Regions from separate parts of the Homo sapiens genome. Here region 2 is linked to region 1. Evidence: fine-mapped expression QTL. Tissue or cell type: whole blood. Region 1 holds a variant in brackets; the other region holds the start of a gene. All regions are shown on one strand. Distances are from middle to middle. Region 1 overlaps IGFBP7 (insulin like growth factor binding protein 7). Region 2 holds the start of IGFBP7 (insulin like growth factor binding protein 7).

Region 1 (8,333 bases):
TTAGTCAGTCAGTAGCTGTCTCAGCTGTCAGATTGACTGTCATGGTATCACAGTGCTTGTGTTCCAAGAAACCCTTATTTTACTTAATAATGGCCCCAAAGCGCAAGAATAATAAATTTGGTTTATTGTTATAGTTGTTCTATTTTACTATTAGTTGCTGTTGTTAATCTCTTACCGTGCCTAATTTACAAAACAGATTTTATCAGAGGTATGTATATATAGGAAAATATTGGAAAAAACATAGTATTAATATATACTATTAATATATACTGTATAAAGTTCGGTACTATCCACAGTTTCAGGCATCCACTGGGGGTTTTAGAAAGTATCCCCTGAAGGGATAAGGGTGGACTATTGTATTTTTATTTTTCCTGCAAACGACACACAGTTTTCCCACATCTTGAACATACTGATCCCCTTGCCTGAAAGCCCATTTCCTCTTTCATGAATTTAGTTCTGACCTACTCAGTAAGAATTTTTTTTGTTTTTCAGAGACGAAATCTCGCTGTTGCCCCAGGCTGCAATCCAGTGGCTATTCACAGGCACAATCACAGGCACTACAGCCTCAAACTCCTGGGTTTAAGCAATCCTCCTGCCTCAGCCTCTCGAGTAGCTGGGACTACAGGAAAAAAAACTTTTTTGCCCCGTCACTCAGGCTGGAGAGCAGTGGCGCAATCATAGCTCACTGTAGCCTTGACCTCCCAGGGTCAAGCAATCCTCCTGCCTCAGCCTCTTGAGTAGCTGGGACTACAGGTGCACACCACCACGCCTGGCTAATTTATATTTTATTTTTTAGAGATGAGGTCTCACTATATTGCCCAGGCTCCCAGGCTGGTGTCAAACTCCTGGGCTCAAGTGATCCTCCCACCTCAGCCTCCCAAAGTGCTGGTGTAGCAGGCTGGATCTCCATAAACCCTTTGCTGTAATGAGGAATGTATAAGTTAAACATTAAAGCAGAAGTAGAAAACAATGGATAACGAACTGGGGTAACTGGTGCCTGAGTAAGAAAGCTCGAATGCAAAAACAAACCTATTAAAACCTTACCTGGACTTCCTCAACCTCAAACCTGATTGAGGGATCAAAGCGTGCACCAAGACCCACTTAAGAAACTTTCCTACCCACAGACCCATAGTTAAAATTAGATTAAGAAACACTCCCACAAGTAGACATAGAGCTTGAATTGTGTATATAAGCTAAAGGAAAACTTGTAACTTTGAGTTGATCTGGTGAGTTACTCTGACCTTCTTCCTGTAACTGGTTGCAAAAATAAACTCCCTCCTTTCCCAGTCTGTCTGCATCTTGTTATTGGACTCGAGAACAAGCAGCCAGACCTCATTTGTCTGGGAACTCTGGGATTACAGCCCAGGAGATTATTTTTTATATTTGTATTTCTATCGTAGGACCAGTTGCACTTCGCCTGTTTTATAATTGCATGTATAGTTGTCTTCACTTCCTGATTGTAAATCCCTATGGGACAGGAGTCCAACCCTAACATCTTTCTATTCCTCATGTGACCCAGCACATCACTTAGTTCATGATGGACTGGGACAAATTAATCCATTCCATGTTTTCACCTGCTTAATGCTATACAATGCTGAAATGTGATTTAGTTAGTTATTATTGTAGTCCTTTCTCACCTTTTAAACCATTTTCCATAGGAATTTCCCCTTAAGGAATTAATTCAACGAAGCAGTAGTACAAGTTAGTGCTCTAGATATAGGGATAGATATTAAAGTTGATGATGATTAGATGACATTTTTCTTTTTTTTGTTTTAAATATTCTTTTTTAAAAAAAGTTTATTTTAGGTTTGGGGGTACATGTGCAGGTTTGTTACATAGGTAAACTCGTGTCATGGAGGTTTGTTGTACAGCATATTTTATCACCCAGGTGTTAGGCCTAGTACCCAATAGTTGCCCTTTCTGCTCCTCTCCCTTCTCCCACCCTCCACCCTCAAGTAGACCCAGTGTCTGTTGTTCCCCTCTTTGCGTTCATGAGTTCTCATCATTTAGTTCCCGCTTGTAAGTGAGAACATGTGGTATTTGGTTTTCTGTTCCTGTGTTAGTTTGCTGAGGATAATGGCCTCCAACTCCCTCCGTGTTCCTGCAAAAGACATGATCTCATTCTTTTTTATGGCTGCATAGTATTCCATGGTGTATATGTACCACATTTTCTTTATTCGATCTGTCATTGATGGGCATTTACGTTGATCCCATGTCTTTGCTATGGTGAATAGTGCTGCAATGAACATTCCTGTTCATGTGTCTTTATGGTAGAATGATTTATGTCCCTCTGGGTATATATCCAGCAATAGAATTGCTGCATCAAATGGTAGTTCTGTTTTTAGCTCTTTGAGGAGTCGCCATACTGCTTTCCACAATGGTTGAGCTAATTTACACCCCTACCAACAGAGTATAAGTGTTCCCTTTTCTCCGCAACCTTGCCAGCATCTGTTGTTTTTTGACTATTTAATAATAGCAATTCTGACTGGTGTAAGATGGTATCTCATTGTGGTTTTGATCTGCATTTCTCTAATGATCAGTGATGTTGAGCTTTTTTTCATATGCTTATTGGCCACATGTGTGTCTTCTTTAGAAAAGTGTCCATTCATGTCCTTTGCCCACTTTTTAATGGGGTTGGTTTTTTCTTGTAAATTTGTTTAAGTTCCTTACAGATGCTGGATATTAGACCTTTGTCAGATGCATAGTTTGCAAATATTTTCTCCTATTCTGTAGGTTGTCTGTATACCCTGTTGATAGTTTCTTTTGCTGTGCAGAAGCTCTTAAGTTTAATTAGGTCCCATTTGTCAATTTTTGCTTCTGTTGCAATTGCTTTTGGTGTCTTTGTCATGAAATATTTACCTGTTCCTATGTCCAGAATGGTATTGCCTAGGTTGTCTTCCAGGGCTTTTATAGTTTGGGGTTTTACATTTACATCTTTAATCCATCTTGAGTTAATTTTTTCATATGGTGTAAGGAAGGGGTTCAGCCTCAATCTTCTGCATATTGCTAGCCAGTTATCCCAGCACCATTTATTGAATAGGGAGTCTTTTCCCCATTGCTTGTTTTTGTTAGCTTTGTTGAAGATCAGATGGTTGTAGGCGTGCAGGCTTATTTCTGGGCTCTCTATTCCATTGATCTAGATGTTTGTTTTTGTACCAGTACCATGCTGTTTTGGTTACTGTAGCCCTAATAGTATAGTCTGAAGTCAAGTAACGTGATGCCTCTGACATTTTTTTATGTTCCCTAATTATTAGGAATTGAACTTCTGTCCAGCCTGATTTAACATATGATGATCAGTATGTTCCAGAAAGATCTGTTCTTTAATCATCTTCTGAGCACATTACAAGCCATTGAGGAAAGCTAGCTAGTGCTAACCTTATGAAATATTTATGGAATTATTATTCCTTATTTTTTTGTAAGTTAAAATGCTCCTTGCTGATTAAAAAAAATTACCCACGACTTTTTTGTGAATGGGATTAATCTTCTCTCTCTCTGTTCCACAGACCATGACTCCCTGTTCTCCACAGAGGCCAAGCTCCCATGGATATGGGGTGGAAATTTGGAGACAGGTCAAAGTCATATGTATCCCAAGAGTCTTGTTCTTATTTTCTCTATTTGAGTTTACTTTGAGCTTTCTTCTCTTCAAGTGTCAGTTCAGCTGATGTACTGGCTCAGACCATAACCCTTTCCCAAGGACTAGGTAAACCTGGATTACTTTCTACCTCTTCCCCTTTGTTGACAAGCAGCTGGTGTTTGTGAAAAAGCATTGTCTTAGTGCTTGAAGTCTGCTGCCTTAGCCAAGTTCAGAGATCCATTCATTATCTTTGAAGTGCCCAGCTTCCTAAAAGGGTCACACATGTTGTTAAAGAGACTCCCTGAGAACATACCCAAAAAGCAAGGATGAGGGAGGCATAAACAGCAGCTCCAAGGCCAATTTCGGGAGTACTGAGAACATTTTCTTCCTCGTGCCTCTAAAGAATGAGTTTCCTACTTTTATGTATGGTTGCTCTGAAGAGGCGCCAAATCTGAAATCCCCTGTTTTATGAGGAAATTATTTTCATTTACATAAACAAAAGAATAAAATCTCCAAGGCCAGAACTGATGGTTGCTCTAGAAGAAATGCCTTTGGAAGTTCTACAATAAGCCCCAGGTTCACGTGACCGTTAGGATACTTTGCATGTAGTTTCTCCCAGTC[C/T]TTGTAAAGGCATAATGTCCTCACCTTTAAAACCCAATCTACGGATGGGTGCACTGGCTCACACATGTAATCCCAACGCTTTGGGAGGCCAAGGCAGGGGGATCACTTGAGCCCAGGAGTTCGAGACCAGCCTGGGCAACACAGGGAGACCCTGTCTCTACAAAACAAATTTTAAAAACTTAGCCAGGGATGGTGGTATGTGCCTGTAGTCCCAGCTACTTGGAAGGCTGAGTTGGGAGGATCTCTTGAGCCCTAAAGGACGAAGCTGCAGTGAGCCATGATCGTGCTACTATACTCCATCCTGGATAACAGAGTGAGAGCCTGTCTCAAAAAAAGAAAAAAAAATCTACTATAGAAATCATGAAAAACTCCTTTCTGTGTCTCCCTGCACTGTTAGGGAACTAATAATTCAAGTGAAATAAAAAACAAAACTCAAAAAAAGAAAGCACCATTAATTAAAGAAAAATAATCACTGCCTAAAATTAGCCAAAGTGCCAATGCAGAGATTTCTGATGTGAAAAATGCCAATAAGAGCAGAAAAGAGTATTTCCATGCCACTGCAATCTCCTTCTGTGAGGTAACATGTCCCACGTGCATTGGCATAGCTTTGCTTCACCTTGTTCCCATTTCTCACAGCTCACACCCAGCCAGATGGACTCCTCTGTCCCCCAGCCTGATAAAAGCAAGGGTGACTTGCCTTGCTAAATGGTAAATTCCTTATGCAAAGCCTTCCAGTTCTCACCAGGCAGGTCCTCCTCTCCTGTGATCAGAGAGACATCCCCATTTCCCTGATTTCAGAGCAGTGCTATTTGGCACTTTTGAGCCTCACTTGAACAGTCTGGCTGTTCCTGGCCCAGACTGTTTACTGCACCCACATCTAGCACCTTCTCAATTCCTCTTAGCACTCAGAAAAATTGTCTTGTAGCTGAACTCAAACACACAGTAATACTTATCCTAAGTACCCAAGACACACACACGAGAAGAACTAGCCCTACACTAGCGTAAGAGGAGCATTCTATTCCAGGTTCAGCCTTAGGGACGACACTAGAGAAAATACCAAAAATGGGAGAAGAAACACGAAATCCTGCTAGGAAGCTGAGAGAAAATCTGAGAACACTCAGCAAAGAATGCATGAGCAAAGGATGGGATAGATAACAGACAGCTTTTCAGTCTCTAGACATCACAAAACGGCTCAGAAAATGACCAGAGGGGCCAAGCTGGAGAAGAGGAAAACACTGAGAAAGAGCAGGAGGAGCTCAGTTATGCGCGGCTGGCTAACGTCTGGGGTTGTCTGCCAGGGAGTCACGGTGGCTGGGCTGTGACAATGGGAGTCCGGGGCCTGGAGGGTAAAAACATACGCAAGTACAAACGCCAGACGCCCGCCAAGCAGCCATCACGCCCTGCGCTCTGCTCCATGGAAGTCTGAAGGGGGCTATTCGCACACAGAGATCCCTTTATTCAACCTCCTCCTTGCCCGCTTAAAGCCAAACCGAATGTCTTAACAGAGAGGCAATCGGACCAGAAATGAGCAAAGGGCGGCTCCCAAGTTCGAGGGATTTTAGATAAGACCCATGCACTCCAGACACAGAGCCCCATCTCCATACAGAACAGTCAAGGGCAGGAATGAGGAGGGCAGAAGAGGGACAGGGTGCAGGTGGGAGATGACTGCCCTATTTTATGAAAATGGAAAGCAGTCCAGGAGAACCGCGATGACCCTGTCCACCCCCGCGTGATTGAAGTGGTGGCGGTGCTGGTGTTATCAGGTGTCTGTACCCTTCACCCAGAACCAGCCCACTGGATTTTCTCAATTCTCCGTGAATACTGGCACCTCCCAAGTAGTACTTGGCCTCTCACTCCCCAAAAAGACCTACGAACATAATTTCTTCTAATCTGTCCCCCTCTCCTCCTTTCTAACTTTCCACCTTCCTGTCTTCCTAATCATCTGAGTATCTCCTACTCAAAAACAATGTTTTAATTGAGTACTTCTACCTAGGGAGTTTTTTTTAAGATACCTGTACCAGACTCCACGCCCAGACCAGTGAGAAACTAGGAGTGCAGCCCAGGAATGGGCATTTTTTTCGACACACCCAGATGAGTCCAGTGTGCAGCCAGGATTGGCAACCACTGGATAAGATCCTGCAGGACAGAATCCTTCCTAGAGGCCAGTACCCGGTGGCTGAGGCTCTGCGTGTCTGCTGCCTATTTCTGCAGATGCCCCGCTATGAAATCTTTTCCAACCTGCATAGCCTTCTGGAGACTGAATAAACCTCTGCTTGGTAGCTCCTGGTCTAAGAGGGTCACCCTATACTGCACTGTCGGACCCCACAGGCACTTTCCAGTGCCGTCAGCCTCGCCTGAAGGATTTGCTGGGATTTCTAAAGTGTGAATCTTTTCCTTGGGCAGAGTGGTGCTAAACACGTGTCTGGTTCTCAGGGAGCTGAAGAACTTTAGTCTTCTACTGAAGACCCAAGGTGTTAAGTCTCCTGGTCCTCCTTGGTTGTCCGAGTGTACAGGGAACAGCAGAACTGGCCCCATTGTAGCATCCTCCCAGGGAGTTCAGGCCTTGGCCTTCAGCGTCGCAAAATGTTTTCAGGAGGAGGTTTAGCAAGTCCAGCTCTCCTGAAGTAGAAGATCACTTGGGAATCTCTTACATCCTCTTCCCCAGGGGCACATCTATTTCTTCTTCTTTTTTTTTTTTTTTTTTTTTTTTTTGTGAGAGAGAGCCTCGCTCTGTCGCCAGGCTGGAGTGCCGTGGTGTGATCTTGGTGCACTGCAACCTCCGCCTCCCAGGTTCAAACAATTCTTCTGCCTCAGCCTTCCAAGTAGCTGGGACTACAGGCACGTGCTACCAAAATTAGCCTGACTAATTTTTTGTATTTTTAGTAGAGACGGGTTTTCACCATGTTAGCCAGGATGGTCTCGATCTCCTGACCTCGTGATCTGCCCACCTTGGCCTCCCAAAGTGCTGGGATTACGGGCATGAGCCACCCCGTGCCCAGCCAAGCACATCTATTTCTAAGCAGATTGCTTAGAATTCTTGTTAGTCAGCGCAGGGCCTACGGATAGAGACTAAGCTTTAAAGATGGGTGAGCCTCCCTTACAGGTAGTTCAAGAAACCCTTCCTGATGTCTGAGGATACCAGGCACTGGGTTAGTATGTAGGGGCCTGAGAGTGGGCAGGGACTCCAAGATGAAGTGTCCTAGCCAGGCTTGGTGGTTGCTCACCTGTAGTCTCAGCCACTCAGGAGGCTGAGGCAGGAGGATGGCTTGAGCTTGGACTCCTGGGAGTCCAAGACCAACCTGGGCAATGTAACAAGATCTCATCCCAAGAAAAGAAGGAGAAATTTCCTAGGGAAACTCACTATCTAGGCTTCTAGGAATCCCAGAATCAGGTGTGACCATCCACGTGGTTAGCAATAAGTTTCCTATGGGAACTTCCCACCCAATTCAGTGCTTGCAGAATAAGAAAGCGCTAGCAAAAACATTTAATATCTTGTATTTAAGGTGAGTCATAGTCCAGACAGGACAGGCCCATGAGATGTGGAAAAAATGTGTTTCCAAGGCTATGTTAACATCACTAGGGAGTTTCGTCTCGGGAAAGCACTCTCTATAAAGTCAGTTCTTCCAGGTCCTCAAACCAATTCAAAACCTAGCCTGCTGATTCAACTTGTGTGGACCTCAGCCAGTCTGGTATTAGGATGATAGTGTAGGTATTCCAGCTTCCTAGGGGAGCTCTGCTGAATACGTTAGCTCATCCCTGGGCAATGTTGTTGGCACAGCCCCATGTTACCTCATCTATCACATGGTTACCAGAGCGAGCTCACCATCTTGCACACCTGAACATGGTTTCAAGTCCTTCATGGATTTGCTTCATGGCAGTAGCAGGGTCCCTTCAAGAATGACACCAGACCACATGTACCAGAACCACCATGGGCAAGAACCACACCCTGGAGTCAGACTCTTTGTCAGTACCCCACTTTTTTTTAATGCTAGACCCATACAAGGAAGGGGACAAGAATAAGAAAACATCATCAAGGGCCAGGTGCGGTGGCTCACGCCTATAATCCCAGCACCCTGGGAGCCCGAAGCGGGCAGATCACCTGAGGTCAGGAGTTCGAGATCAGCCTGATCAACATGGT
Region 2 (8,333 bases), 54 kb before region 1:
CTCTGGGTGCAGTGTGCAAGGCCCTTCATTATCTGTCATCTGCCCTCTCTCCAGACTCATTTCTTCCCACTTCTCCACATACTCACCTTGCTTCAGCTAAGCTGAACTTCTTGTGGCAGCTGGAACATGCCAAAGTGGTTTCCACTGGCTTAGCCCCTTTTCATGCACTGTTTATCCGAGTTTGGGTGATCAGATACACCCTACCCCATCACCTGACAATCTCTGACTTACTAATGGTGATAACGATGAAGGAGAGAAAGGAGAAAAAAATGAAATAATAAAGATGATAGATAACTATTGTAACAGACTGTTGAATAGAACAACTCTTCCTTTGCCTAAAAAATGGCACTAGGATCTACAACCCAAAACTATAGGTTCTGCGTGTCCCCACATTCTAAAGCAGAGCCACCAAAAATTGGACCAGGGCCAGGTGTGGTGGCTCATGCCTATAATCCCAGCACTTTGGGGGGCCAAGGCAGGAGGATTACTTGACATCAGGAGTTGGAGACCAGCCTGAGCAATATAATGAGACTCTGTCTCTACAAAAGCAAAGAAAAATTATTAATAGTCAGGTATGGTGGTATGCACCTGTAATCTCAGTTATTTAGGAGGCTGAATAGGGGGATCGCTTGGGCCCAGGAATTTGAGGCTGCAGTGAGCTATGATTGTACCACTGCACTCTAGCCTAGGTGACAGAGCAAGACCTTGTCTCAAAAAAAAAAAAAATTGAACCAGAATGCTCCTCAATGCTACATGTCCCTGCCACAAGCACCACAAGCCCCACACACCATCCCCCCACCCCCCCACACACACAGGCACATATAAACAGGTTTGGGGTGAGAGCTTACTGGAGAAAGCAGGTTTCTCCTCCCCTTAATCACCGCCCCACCCCCAACTCCTAAGAAGACAAGGATAACGGAGCCAAGAGGTCTGTGATGTTTGCAAGAAAAAGAGACAAGCATTCCGTTGTCCAATTAGATGTCTCCTGAATAGGCAGGCTGGCTTCTGGCCCTGTACTGGCTGGACATAGAGGGACTTCACAGGGGCAGGCTGCACAGCACCACGGGTTTCCCACAGATATCAAGAAACTTGCCAGACTGAGTAGTCTTAGAGATACTCCACCAAGAAGGGTGCTCGCCAGGTACAAGGACCCATCGGCAAAGGGTTTGGGAGTGTCCTGTGGGCTGGGGGAATATTGAGCTGAAGTAGTGTAGAAGGGAGGGGGACATATATCTCTTGCATCATTACCCTTCAGCCAAAGATCACAGGAATGCACCTGTAGTTGAATAAGTTGAGTTTATCACTCATTGTAGCAAGGGAGGATAGACACCATATGGAACTATGGGGGTCTCAGTAAGGGGGTGTTAGAAAGAGCCTATTATAGGATTTGGACTTTGGTTGAGTAATTTAGGGGAAGGTCTAAGGAAGCAGGAGGTTGCTATGGATGGGGTGCTCTCAGAAAGCAGGAATGATTCTTTTTAAACATTAAAAAAATTTTAATTCACAAAAAATTGTGTATATTTACAGTGTACATGATGTTTTTATATATGTATGTATTGTGGAATGACTAGATTAAGCTAAGTAACATATTCTTTACCTCACATACTTATCATTTTTGAGGCAAGAACATTTAAAATGTACTCTCTGTCAGGCGTGATGGCTCACACCTGTAATTCCAGCACTCTGGGAAGGCTGAGGCAGGCGGATCACGAGGTCAAGAGTTCGAGACCAGCCTGACCAACATGATGAAACCCAGTCTTTCCTAAAAATACAAAAATTAGCTGAGCGGGGTAGTATGTGCCTGTAATCCCAGCTACTCAGGAGGCTGAGGCAGGAGAATGGCTTGAACCCGGGAGGTGGAGGTTGCAGTGAGCCAAGATTGCGCCACTGCACTCCAGCCTGGGCAACAGAGCGAGACACCGTCTCAAAAAAAAAGAAAGAAAAGAAAAGAAAAGAAAATTCAACACCACTTCATGATGAAAAACAATCAACAGAATAGAAAGGAATTTCCTCAACCTGGTAAGACTGTCTATGAAATGCCCACAGCTAACTTCATACTTAGTGGTGAAAAACTAACAACTTTCCCTCTAAGGTGAGGACTGGGACAAGGGTGTCCACTCACCTCTTCTATTCAACATTATACTGGAGGTTCTAACCAGGGCAATTAAGCAAGAAAAAGAAACAAAAGGCACCAATTAAACAGGAAGAAGTAAAAATATCTCCATCTCCACATCCAGCCTCTCCACCTCACTAAAACTGAAGCTGAACAGGTGACAATATATCTGTTATTGGAAGGGTGGAGTTGTCAACTTGCTCTTTAAAGGCTCCATTCACCTGCCTTTTTTCTAACATCTCTTCTTGTTTTCAGGTCCTCCAGCTCGACTGGCACTATCACAGAGCTCGGGTTCCCCTTTCAGTGACCAGAAACTTGCTTGTTTTCTTTGCTTGCTGGGCAGTGAGGAGGTTCCTCAAAGGGACTCCGCTGTAGCACATGCTTGCATTCTCACTGTTGGCTCTGATGCAGGACCTCCACACACTGTGGGTGACAGCTCTTAGTGTACAGCTGCTGCCACTGCCCACCCACATGCCCTACACACGCAAACACACACACACACACACACACACACACACACACACACACAGTTTGTAGAGCCTGAGGGCTTCTTCTGGCTGCGGAGATAAGCACCTTTATTGGCTGTCTTCCCTTCCTGCTTGCTCACCTGCCTGCCCCAACCCTCAATCTCTGTGTCCTGATGTGGCTTCTCAGGTGACCTACTTGCACTGGAATCCTTGTCTCAGAGAAAGCTTCTGGAGAATCTAAAACTATGACAGATCGTCATACTAGATCATGGAACCAATTTAGTGGCTCTTGACCAGTGAATTAATAAAAAGGAAATCAGGGCCGGGCATAGTGGCTCACACCTGTAATCCCAACACTTTCGGAGGCCGAGGCAGGTGGATCACTTGAGGTCAGGAGTTTGAGACCAGCCTGGGCAACATGGTGAAACCCTGTCTCTAGTAAAAATACAAAAATTAGCCGGGCATGTTGGTGCATGCCTGTAATACCAGCTACTCGGGAGGCTGAGGCAGAAGGATTGTTTGAAGCTGGGAGGCAGAGGTTGCAGTGAGCCAAAATCTCACCACTGCACTCCAGACTAGGCGACACAGGGAGACTTCATCTCAAAAAAATAAAAAAAAGAAAAAGAAAGAAAAGAAAAGAAAGAAAGAAAGAAATTAAATACAATAGGAAATAGAGTGCACTCTGCATTTGTTTCCTTTTCAAGAAAACAAATGGGTCATGTAAACTGCATCTCTTAGGATGGAACAAAGACAAAAATATTTAGGGAAACTCTGCTGTAAAGATTTTTCATTGTTTTTTAAACAACTGTCAGGTCAACATATGACCTTTGAGGGGAAAAAAAATGCTCCACTTGTCTATAATACACTAAGGAGAGGCCAAAAAGCAGTGCTAGGTTTTTCTGGATTGGAGGATGTTTCCCCACTCTCCACCCCCCGATTTTGTGGTCATTTAATTTTCAAAAAATTTGCAATAATTATCCTTGTAAGAGTCTGTTGAGAATGAGTTCTTTACACTGCTAATGGGATTATGAACTGAACTGCTGGCTTTCAGTCAGCAACCCTGTAAATCCCTGGATTTATGCTAAGAAAAAAGAACACAAAAGAACCACAATGTGACATGCAGAATAATGCACGCTGCAATGTTACACATTCAGTTAAAAAGTGAAAGCAACTTCCATGTCTGCATTGGAGAGGCCAGTGTTCCTGGGAAGAGAGGCTTTCAAGTTGAGTTTGCAGAGCACTTCGCAGAAAGACTGAGGAAGAGTCCACCGTTTATATCAAAAACCTCCTGGAATGCTGGTGAAGACTGGGGGCGCTTTAGGTGCCTCCGTGGCAGCTCCAACGAGGAAGGAGCTGGGACCCCTGCTCCTCTCAGCTGCGCTCTGTTCTCCCGAGAGGCTTGCTGGAGGGCGAGCAGTTCAGCAAGAACTCAAAACAAGGGCACAGCTCTCACACGGATTCCAGTACTCACTGAAAACGGCTCAGCACAAAAAAAGCACAGAGTCTTGTTGAATGCCACTGGGAGACAAAGCGGGGAGGGAGGTGCAGGCAGTTAAGAGGTTCCAGAAAGGGAAGTGGTTGGCAACGGTTTGTCCTTTTAGTGCTTGACACCCAAGACCACAGCAGGCCTGTGGCCAGCGGGGACACAGTCCACAAGTGGGGGTTTTTAACAGCTTGTTCTTAAGAGAGCTTCCCAAACCACAGAGTAATGAGCACTCAGGTGTCTCAGGCCCACGGAGGATTTAATAGATGAAACCCTGGATCGTCTCGAAGCCGTGGTTGTTAAGAAGTTTAAATATATTGACCGGAAACGGGGAGAAACCAGAGGGTGGAAGAGCCGCTCGCACTGCGGTGCGATCCCTGAGGGCTCGGGGCAGGGGACTGGGGACCGAGCAGGAGCTGGCGGGGTGAGCTCTGCGAAGCGGGCGTGAGACCGAGCGCCCATGGGCCGGTCACGCCGGGTGCCCGCTCACCCCCCGACGCCAGCAGGAGCGCGCGCGCAGGCCCCGCGGGGCCGGGAGGGCGGCACGGGCGGGGCCCCCGTGCTCTCACCGCCCCGGGGTGTGGTTCCCGCGGACAGGCCGGGCGGGGCGGCGGGTTTAAGGCGCCGGCCGGCCCGACACGGCTCACTCGCGCCCTTGCCGCTGCCACCGCACCCCGCCATGGAGCGGCCGTCGCTGCGCGCCCTGCTCCTCGGCGCCGCTGGGCTGCTGCTCCTGCTCCTGCCCCTCTCCTCTTCCTCCTCTTCGGACACCTGCGGCCCCTGCGAGCCGGCCTCCTGCCCGCCCCTGCCCCCGCTGGGCTGCCTGCTGGGCGAGACCCGCGACGCGTGCGGCTGCTGCCCTATGTGCGCCCGCGGCGAGGGCGAGCCGTGCGGGGGTGGCGGCGCCGGCAGGGGGTACTGCGCGCCGGGCATGGAGTGCGTGAAGAGCCGCAAGAGGCGGAAGGGTAAAGCCGGGGCAGCAGCCGGCGGTCCGGGTGTAAGCGGCGTGTGCGTGTGCAAGAGCCGCTACCCGGTGTGCGGCAGCGACGGCACCACCTACCCGAGCGGCTGCCAGCTGCGCGCCGCCAGCCAGAGGGCCGAGAGCCGCGGGGAGAAGGCCATCACCCAGGTCAGCAAGGGCACCTGCGAGCAAGGTGGGCACGAGCGCTTCCCTCTCCAACCCTGCGCCGCTCGGCCCAGCGAAGGGCACATCCGACGGGGCGTCCGCGGCGGCCTCGCCCCGCGCTGCTCACTGCGATTCCCCCGCGGGCATCCCAGGAGCCAGATGGGAGGGAAAGAGTTGGCAGCCGCGGAATGCCAGGAGCGGTGGGCGACGCCCCCCCTTCTCCTTTTTGGTGGTTTTATTTTGAGAGTTTGCTGCGTGCGTCCAGAAAGTGAGGGCCGGGTGTATATGTAGAAAAGATTTTCCGAGACCTCAGACTTCCCCATGCCCAAAGCGCACCCAACTCGTGCTAACATCTGTCCATTTCTCATCATTCTTGGCTTGGGGATGTAGAGAGAGGTGAAGTCAAGAGATGGGGGAAAGGAGTTTGACAATTAAATATAAAGTAAGGACTTCCAGACAGACTTTTTTTTTTAAAAGATAGGATCTTGCTCTGTCGCCCAGGGTGGAGGGCAGTGGCACGATCTTGGCCCACTGCAACCTCTGCCTCAAGCGATCCTCCTGCCTCAGCCTCCCAAGTAGCTGGGACTATAAGCCTGTGCCACCACGCCTGGCCAATTTTTGGTTTTTTGTTTTGTTTTGTTTTGTTTTATAGCGACGGAGTTTCACTATGTTGCCTAGGCTGGTCTCGAACTCCTGAGCTCAAGTAATCCCGGCCTGCTGGGATTACAGGCATAAACCACCGTGCACAGCCCTGATTTCTTAGTATTGAAGAAAATAGTCCACTTTCTAAAAATTATAGGTTCTCAAACAGTAATCTAACTAGCTAATTATTTGTGGGCAAAAATAAAATACAAACTCTTTGAAGACTGTTTTTGTGATGCACTTTGTTGTCAACCTTCTGACCATTTTGTTTTTCCTTCCTATTTCTTTGATTTGTATTGTTTTGCATAATTTGTCCCCAGGATACACTGTTCAGCAGAAATGTCTTTGAGATTATGTTTGATTGTTTATTTTATTCCAAACAAGTCCAAGCTTGCTGTAAATGAAATAAGGAAATAGGCCGGGTGGGTTGGCTCACGTCTGTAATCCCAGCACTTTGGGAGGCCAAGATGGGCAGATCACGAGGTCAGGAGTTCGAGATCAGCCTGACCAACACGGTGAAACCCCATCTCTAATAAAAAATATATATATATACATTAGCTGGGCATGGTGGTGCATGCCTGTAATCACAGCTACTCAGGAGGCTGAGGCAGGAGAATCGCTTGAATCTGGGAGGCGGAGGTTGCAGTGAGCCGAGATCACATGACAGCACTCCAGCCTGGGTGACAGACAGAGACCCCATCTCAAAAAAAAAAGAAAGAAAGAAGAAAATAAAGTCTGGACTTGCAAATACACGCACATACACACACACATAGAAATTTTAACTCTAATGCCTGAAATAACATTTTCCATTGGCAGTATTTTCAAGGGAAAGTCAGACATTCAATGTTGGCAGCTCCTGATCTTAGCCAAGGTAGAAAAGGGAGAGGAGGCAGTTCTGAGGTTACAGAAGCTGTTGCTTCTTTAACACAGTTCAGACTTTCTCCAGAATTTCCAAATTCTTTCTTTAGAGCTTTTCCCAGAAGTCCACAAACTAATAGGTTGTATGTCATCAATTTCAGAGTTCACTATTGAAAGCCTTAAATTGTGTAACTCACTAGTAACTATTTATAGTATCATCACCTTAAACTTAGAAAATTGCAACCCAAAATAATCTGCATATGTTTACAATAGAAACAGTTATTTGTTACTTTGGATCTCATTTGTCGGTCACATCATGAAAAGATAAATGTGCGTTATTTAAGAATTTATTCCAAATATTGAGATTTTCTTATAAACATTACAATGGGGAACTTTATAGTTTTTTCAAAATGGCAGATACTTGCCTTATCAGAGCAGAAGGTTAGCTTGGTGATTGTTCAAGTGTTGTCAATTTCTAGTTTATACTTAATATTCCTTTTTCTCACCTGCTACTTACATCACCAAACACTCACACAGTCTGATTATAAAATATTGAGACTGACAGTCATATAGAACCAGTTTCATAACCTCATTACCATGTACACCCAGCTCAGTACCTCTCCAGACTGCAAACCCTTTGAGGGTTCCGGCCCGGCTTTTCTTTATATTTGGGGAAATGTTAGAGAAAACAGCATCTAAAACTGGAAACCTTGACTTAAATTAGCCATTTCTTCTCATCCTAAATTGAGAGAGATGAGTTCTAAATGGCAGAGACCATTTATAGGAGAATGCCAAAGAGAGCAGAAGAGAATGGGAAGCCTTTCCCACAGCAGAAACTTTCCACAGCAGAGACAATAGACTGATCCCTATCACATCCCCTAAATATTTCTTCTGACACCTGGATGGGTTTTGACAATCATAGAAGCAAACTGGACAGAGTGCCATTTACTTCTGTGCCATTTCATACTGGGGCTTTGCACAGAATAGGAAATGCATTGTCTAGGTTCCTCTAGACCTCTAGGTTCCCTTCTATTCTCAGAAGAAACTTAAGTTATGCTTGAGTATAACTTGAGTAGGGGCCAGGTAGGGGCAGCATTGTGGGATTCAGCCACAATGGTGTGATTCAATCTGCCCTCTGGTCTTTGGTTCCATTTAACATGCATTTATTGAGCAGCTAACTTGAGTCAGCACTGTACTAGGTGCTATATACCAGGGATGTACAAAACAGATTTGATGTTGCTGATTAAGAAAGTATCTGTACAAGTTACAAACTCACCTCCCAGAGCACTTGCCCTGGAGCCCTGGAGCTTGCCCCAGTCTTCCTCCTTTCTAAGATCACCACTTACCCAACTGGGAAGAGATCTTGGTCTGCTTGTTTTCCATACCTCTCTGGTAGGAGGCAAAGCGATCTGCTTGAAAATATGTCTGAAAGATAATCAGCAAATAATTTCAAATCTTGGAACTGTCATTATGAATTTACTGCCATTAGATTGTATTGAGGTCCCTGAAGTCATGGATAACCAGAAGGGGGAATTTGAAGATTCCATTTAATAAAAAGAAGTTGATACAAAGAAGCTAAGATATATAATAAAATTTCATAGTTGGAAGAGAACATGATGCTTCTGTATTCCAATTACTGATTAT

Evidence for each region. PIP is the estimated chance that this variant, and not a neighbour inherited with it, causes the effect.
Region 2: IGFBP7 starts here. The variant in region 1 is fine-mapped to the expression of IGFBP7 in whole blood (INTERVAL, PIP above 0.99).

What each region holds. Positions count from the first base shown.
Region 1 is chr4:57,053,214-57,061,546 of GRCh38, reverse strand. All of the region lies in intron 1 of IGFBP7 (insulin like growth factor binding protein 7), which reads left to right. Among named protein-coding and RNA genes, the nearest start is that of IGFBP7-AS1, 52 kb to the left of the region's middle. The variant C/T (reference allele first, on the strand shown) is at 4,196.
Region 2 is chr4:57,106,761-57,115,093 of GRCh38, reverse strand. IGFBP7 (insulin like growth factor binding protein 7) reads left to right here and starts at 4,709. Exons shown (of 5, transcript NM_001553.3): 1 at 4,709-5,217. The coding sequence starts at 4,743. It overlaps IGFBP7-AS1 (IGFBP7 antisense RNA 1), which reads right to left and starts at 5,332. Exons shown (of 5, transcript NR_034081.1): 1 at 5,124-5,332. RefSeq lists a silencer at 4,571-4,640.